Linked DNA regions of Homo sapiens. The protein of the gene in region 2 interacts with the protein of the main gene of each other region in a biochemical or structural test. Each region holds a gene or a part of one and is shown on either strand. Other genes may lie near its edges.

What was found. Proteins that work in one complex are often made in the same cells at the same time.
Region 1: the proteins of MED1 (region 2) and CTDP1 form a complex in vitro, tested with the Homo sapiens proteins (one study listed by BioGRID).

The regions. Positions count from the first base shown.
Region 1 is NC_000018.10:79,707,303-79,710,802, reverse strand, and holds part of CTDP1 (RNA polymerase II subunit A C-terminal domain phosphatase), read right to left. Parts: intron 458-3,500; coding exon 367-457; intron 1-366. UniProt on the Homo sapiens protein: Processively dephosphorylates 'Ser-2' and 'Ser-5' of the heptad repeats YSPTSPS in the C-terminal domain of the largest RNA polymerase II subunit. This promotes the activity of RNA polymerase II.
Region 2 is NC_000017.11:39,441,264-39,444,763, reverse strand, and holds part of MED1 (mediator of RNA polymerase II transcription subunit 1), read left to right. Parts: intron 1-1,135; coding exon 1,136-1,214; intron 1,215-3,500. UniProt on the Homo sapiens protein: Component of the Mediator complex, a coactivator involved in the regulated transcription of nearly all RNA polymerase II-dependent genes.

The DNA.
Region 1 (3,500 bases), on a different chromosome or scaffold from region 2:
AGGCTGAGGCGGGAAGATCACGAGGTCAGGAGATCGAGGCCATCCTGGCTAACACAGTGAAACCACCGTCTGTACTAAAAATACAAAAAAAAAAAAAAAAAAAAAAAAAAAAAAAATTGCCGGGCGAGGTGGTGGGTGCCTGTAGTCCTAGCTACTCAGGAGGCTGAGGCAGGAGAATGGCGTGAACTCTGGAAGCAGAGCTTGCAGTGAGCCGAGATCGCGCCACTGCACTCTAGCCTGGGCAACAGCAAGACTCCGTCTCAAAAAAAAAGAAAAAAAGAAATACTGCTCTAAATTTCAAGATGCGATTTTTGAAATGGGAAATGAACAGCGAGGTCTTTGTGAGGAGCGCGGCTGGGTACATACCTAAGGTTTCCCGTTTTAGAAAATGGGTCAATACATTCATCCCTTGATAATATTCGGTGAGAAAAAAGCTTCTTCTCGGGGTCTAAAAAGCCTTGGAAAAGAAAACAGGACAAAGATTACATACCTGAGACACGTTTCGGTCACACGGCACATGGTGAAGCCTTGAATGTTTTTTTTAAAGTGGCAGACACACAACATGATGAACTGGCACCAAACACTTCATCCCTTTTGAGGTAAGACGTGGCTCGTGTGGGGCTTCTTTTCTCTTATGGTGAACTTATTTCTCAAACACAAACCATGTTGATAAGTGTTTATAATTCTACTAACATGAAAAATTTGTAATATCTTACTGAAGTGCCTATCTAAACCAGATGGATATGAAAATTATGGAAGGCACTTGCATAAGTAAAACAGGTAAGTCATCATTTGATCTCAAAACACTCTGCATGTGGTTCTTCACGTGATGGAGTCTGGACACTAAGCTGAAATTACTCTGCGTCACCTCGGATATGATCTTTCCTAACCCCAGGCGGGTGGCCCACTGCTCTCATCTGTAATGGTTAGTGGAGGAAAGGTTATCAAGGAAGTTTGCTTCTCCCAAGTTACTTTAGTAGAATTATACAAACTCACACTCTGTGTTGTAGAAATACACAGAAAGGCCGGTTATTTCTAACTATTATACACGTTTTAATAATGGTAATTTAGGCAACATCGAGGAAGCCTGCCTGACAGAGGAGACTGGGAAGGAAGGACATCCGGGACACCACCTTGACCAGCTAGTGCAGAAGGTGCTTCCACAGCGAAGAATCCGCTTAGGCTACATTTGACACTTGCACTTCACATGACATCCGTTAATTACAAGTCTAGTTTAACTTTTTAACAGTAATTTTCTAAAGAGCTTCACATGCTTGATGCTCAGCTTCGACTCCTTAAAGATAGTAAAACCAAGCTATCTGCAAACATCCCTTCTACACTTCAGGAAGCACCACTGTGAAAATCAACAAATCAGGCAGAGGTTTCTTGGGATCACCTCTGCTCTGGGTTTCTTGATCTATAAATTTATCTTCTGAACTTTAAGCCTACTGTGTTATCTTCCTAAGTTTGCAAAGTCTTCAATTTACAGTAAAGTGCTCATATTTTTAAATAAAGATAATTTAAAAATAAGTTATCTCTTGTTAGTTTACAAGAACCACAGAGTATATAGGAAACATATTTCAGTTTGTAGAAGTAGGGGTACTAAACAAAAACAAAACAACCTTTCAGGTAATTTATTCCATTGGTAAAATATGTTGGAGGCATCAAGTTCAATGTCAATTTAATTTCACCAGCCATTTAAAACATTCTGGAGAGAAAAAGCTACGGTTAATTATGAAGCCTCAAAAAGAAATGTTTCAGCTACTCATCATACAAGTGGCTGAAGCCATAAATCTGCACATACCTCAAGAGATAGGTATTCCATGGCACCCACATAACGTGTTTAAGGGTATTCGATCATTTAACATTTACTGAGTTTAACATTACTTGGAATTTTGCTAGGAATATAAGGTGCGGGAATGAATACAACATAATTATTACTCTCCCAAGAGGCTGAAATTGTAAGAAAATTGAACACATTAACACACAACCTCTATCTGGCCTGACACGTGCAGGTGCCGTGGAACAAAACGGGGACTGGATTGCACAAGAGTGAGCCGGTCCAGAGTCGGGAGCTGGGACTGTGGTCTTGTCATGGCACGCAGGTCCCCTGCATAACCGTTAGTTATGCATGAAGCAAAGGAGGTAGATGAGACATCTCAAAAGCACTGTGAACCCAAAGTCCAACCACGCAGCCCACATTCTCTCAAGACTTAAGTCTCACTGGAACGCCTGGCTCCACGCCTCTGCATGGCACACGGGGTCCACTTCCGGATCCGAATGCACCCCGGAACGCCTGGCTCCACGTCCCCACGTGGCACACGGGGTCCACTTCCGGATCTGAACGTGCCCTGACTGCACTCCACATAATCACTATTGTTTTCACGCTGGCTTTTAATCAACTACTCCCTGCACCCATCCCTACTGGGCTCAACCTCTGCACCACCACCTCTGAGATCACAAATGCGAGAAACACATTTGCTGTTTTTGATACAGGTTAAAACATACACATTACAATTAAAACAGAAGAGCTGCTCTGTGCACCACCTCAGTTACCCTGCAGCCCCACGGCACTATGCACAATGCACTGTGGGATCCGTAAGATCTTCTGGGAAGATGAACCTGCTTCCTGGCTGAAGCATCACCACCTCCAGACGTTTCAAATGCAGTACTGCCAGGAGCTTTCCGTTCCCTGATACCACTGGTTTGTTAGTATTTCATTAACCAAAAGATACTTGGGCTTAAAGGAGAAATAAATGCGATTGTTTCTCACTATGCGTAAATTCCAGATGATCACTGAGGCCATGAAGTCGCTAGATCTAAAGTCTGTTAATAGAATTATTAGCGTCTCTACTATCAGATAAAAGACACGCATCGCAAACTCTTAACATCTCTGTCCTAGTCATACTGAAAGCACGCATGCTATCAACACGGTCACTTTCAAAATGAAAAGCATCAAAAGCAGATGCTCGGCGACCACCTCAGGCTTCAGTCCGGACCTCACTTTCTCACTTGTAGAAAAGCTGACCCAGGTCATCTCTACAGATCCCGCCAGCCACAATGAAGCAAAGCTCGGCCTTCCTGAACCACAGCCTGGACACAGTCTTCCTCCTGCGTTGCTGGGCTCGAGGGCCCATGTTCTGTTGAGAATTTCTGCATCCATGTTCAAAGGGATACTGGTCTGCAGTTTTCTTGTGATGTCTTCGTCTGGTTTTGGCCGACATCCCTTGGACACGTTGGAATGCTGGAACTTTAGCATAGAAAGCAGAGCTTGAAACGGAGAAGGCACCAGACGGCCCGGTGACGCTCAACAAACCTAGCTGGTCTCACTGCAGGAGGACCCGCGCTCGAGGCTCTCCGCAGCCAAGCGCCCACCAGCAGGCTCCCTGCTCTGCTGTCTAAGCGGCTCAGAGGCCTGCGGATGTCTGCATGGATGCTCTGCTGAATCTGCGAGCAGCTCCCAGGCTCCCTCCAGCTTTCAGGCTGATAAAGAAACATGG
Region 2 (3,500 bases):
CTGAGTAGCTGGGACTACAGGCGCGTACCACCACACCTGGCTAATTTTTGTATTTTTAGTAGAGATGGGGTTTCACTATGTTGGCCAGGCTGGTCTCGAACTCCTGACCTCATGATCTGCTCGCCTTGGCCTCCCAAAGTGCTGGGATTACAGGCGTGAGCCACTGCAACCGGCCTCAAACTAGGCTAAGTTTTTGTTCTTTGGAAGTCCCTTTTCTGGACTACATGTTCTGTTTCTTTTCTTTTTCTTTTTTTTTTTGAGACAGAGTCTCTCTCTGTCGCCAGGCTGGAGTGCAGTGGTGTGATCTCGGCTCACTGCAACCTCCGCCTCCTGGGTTCAAGTGATTCTCCTGCCTCAGCCTGCTGAGTAGCTGGGACTATAGGCGTGCACCACCACGCCCAGATAATTTTTGTATTTTTAGTAGAGACGGGGTTTCACCATTTTGGCCAGGATGGTCTCAGTCTCTTGACCTCGTGATCCACCCGCCTTGACCTCCCAAAGTGCTGGGATTACAGGTGTGAGCCACCGCACCCAGCCTATATGTTCTGTTTTTTAGAGTCAATCTCATTTTCTTAAAATTTGGTTGTGTTTCTCAGATTACATGCAAATCACCTTGTTAAATTTGTACACTACCAAATCTCCTGAGCCATCTTATTTAACTGTTTATATCTTAGCATGTGGTCACTTCCACAGGCGGCAGATCTCATGTATTACATTTTGATTCTTCCTAATATTTCTCTAAAGGTTTTTTTGTTTTAGATGTGGAAATACAACGTTTTCTTTTTTGTTTTTGACTAAATAGAAACAGGATCTCTCTATCTTGCCTTGGCTGGTCTCGAACTCCTGGACTCAAGTGATTATTCAGCTTTGGCCTCTCAGTGTGCTAGAATTACAGGCATGAGCCACGTGCCTGGCTGAGGAATACCTTTTTCTACACTCATATATATGGATTTTGCATGGATGGACAGAGTAACACTTGTAGACCAGTGTTACTCTATATAGTCTACAAAATCTATAGACTATATTGAGTCTATAGACTGTCCTGCAATATTACTACTAGGATAATGTGTATGTTTACCTAAAACACTGTTGGCCTGGTTAATTTTCACCTCAAATGTTTTCCCACTTGACACAGGAGAAGAGGGTTGTGATGAGTTCTGGAGGGCATCAACATTTGGTCAGCTGTTTGGAGACATTGCAGAAGGCTCTCAAAGGTTTGTGAACACTTTTGAAATATGCTGATTTCACAAAACCCCCAGTTCAAGAAGGACCATTTTATACTTAAACTAGAAGTAAAAAATTGAGGTAGGTCAACTTTATGTATTAGATATTGCTCTTGCATTCATTTATGGAGTTGGAATGATCTTTTTGCTAAAGTTTGAAACATTTATTTTTGATCCTGTTTTGGAGGCTGATAGAGATTTAAAAGATAAATGATGAAGGGTAATATAAGATACCTGGGGAGGCTGGGTGCGGTGGCTCGCTCCTGTAATCCCAGCACTTTGGGAGGCTGAGGTGGGCGGATCACAAGGTCAGGAGTTTGAGACCAGCCTGGCCAACATGGTGAAACCCTGTCTCTACTAAAAATACAAAAATTAGCTGGACGTGGTGGCGGGCACCTATAATCCCAGCTTCTCGGGAGGCTGAGGCAGGAGAACAGTGTGACCTGGGGAGGCGGAGGTTGCAGTGAGCCAAAATCACGCCATTACACTCCAGCCTGGGCAACAGGGCAAGACTTGTCTCAAAAAAAAAAAAAAAAAAAAAAAAGATACCTGGGAAAAGTTTTTTTTCCCTTCACATTTATTTCTGATTAATCTCGATAAGAAGATGGACTTTTTTTTTTTTTTTTTTTTTTTTTGAGATGGAGTTTCACTCTTGTTGCTCTGGCTGGAGTGCAGTGGTGGAATCTCGGCTCACCACAACCTCTGCCTCCTGGGTTCAAGCGATTCTCCTGCCTCAGCCTCCCAAGTAGCTGGGATTACAGGCATGTGCCACCATGCCCGGGTAATTTTATATTTTTAGTAGAGACAGGGTTTTCCATGTTGGTCAGGCTGGTCTCGATCTCTTGACCTCAGGTGATCTGCCCACCTTGGCCTCCCAAAGTTCTGGGATCACAGGCGCGAGCCACAGCAACTCGCGAAGTTTTTTTTTTTTTTTTTTTTTTTCCGAGACGGTGTCTCACTCTGTCACCCAGGCTGGAGTGCAGTGGCACAATCTTGGCTCACTGCAACCTCCACCTCCTGGGTTCAAGCGATTCTCCTGGCTCAGCCTCCCAAGCAGCTGGGACTACAGGCGCGTCCCACCACGCCTGGCTAATGTTTTGTATTTTTAGTAGAGATGGGGTTTCACCGTGTTAGCCAGGATAGTATAGATCTCCTGACCTCGTGATCCACCCGCCTCGGCCTCCCAAATTGCTGGGATTACAGGCGTGAGCTACCATGCCTGTCCAGAAGATGGACATTTTAACTCTAAAAAGATTTTTACGGTGTTTATGGAGCAAATTTCCAGGAAAGCAAATGTAAAATATAAGTCATGAGCTTGATTATTCATGCTTATAATGACTAATTCTATTTTTGGGGAATAATGAAAGTAAAAACAGATTTTACTGTGATCCACCAGAAATGAACCTAATTCAGCTGAGGGTTTTTTTTTTTTTTTCTGGAGACAGTGTCTCACTCTGTCGTCCAGGCTGGAGTGCAGTGGCACGATCTCTGCTCACTGCAACCTCCGTTTCCCGGATTCAAGTGATTGTTCTGCCTCAGCCTCCTGAGTAACTGGGATTACAGGCGCCCATTACCATGCTCAGCTAATTTTTGGATTTTTAGTAGAGATGGGGTTTCACCATGTTGGCCAGGGTGGTCTTGGACTCCTGACCTCAGGTGATCTGCCTGCCTTGGCCTCCCAAAGTGTTGGGATTACAGGCGTGAGCCACTTTGCCCAGTCTCAGCTGAGTATTATCTTCTTTACCTTTTTTTGTTTTCTTTTTCTTTGAGACAGAGTGTCGCTGTGTCACCCAGGCTGGAGTGCAGTGGCACGATCTCTGCTCACTGCAACCACTGCGCCCCCACCGGGTTCAAGAGATTCTCTTGCCTCAGCCTCCCGAGAGGGTGGGATTATAGGCGCGCACCACCACACCTGGCTAATTTTTGTATTTTTATTAGAGACAGGGTTTCACCACGTTGGTCAGGCTGGTCTTGAACCCCTGACCTTGTGATCCGCATGCCTCGGTCTCCGAAAGTGTTAGGATTACAGGCGTCAGCCACCGCACGAGGCCTTTTTTTCTGTTTTAATTGTGGTAAAATATAGGTAACAAAATTTACCATTTTCTTTGTTTCTAAGTGTATAGTTCAGTAGCGTTAAGTACATTCATATTATTGTATAATCATCACCACTGTCCATCTGTAAAACTTCACTCATCTTCCCAAGCTTACATTCTGTAATGTCCCATTCCCGCCTTCCCCCAGTCCCTGGCAGCCACCATTCTGCTTCCTGTCTTTATG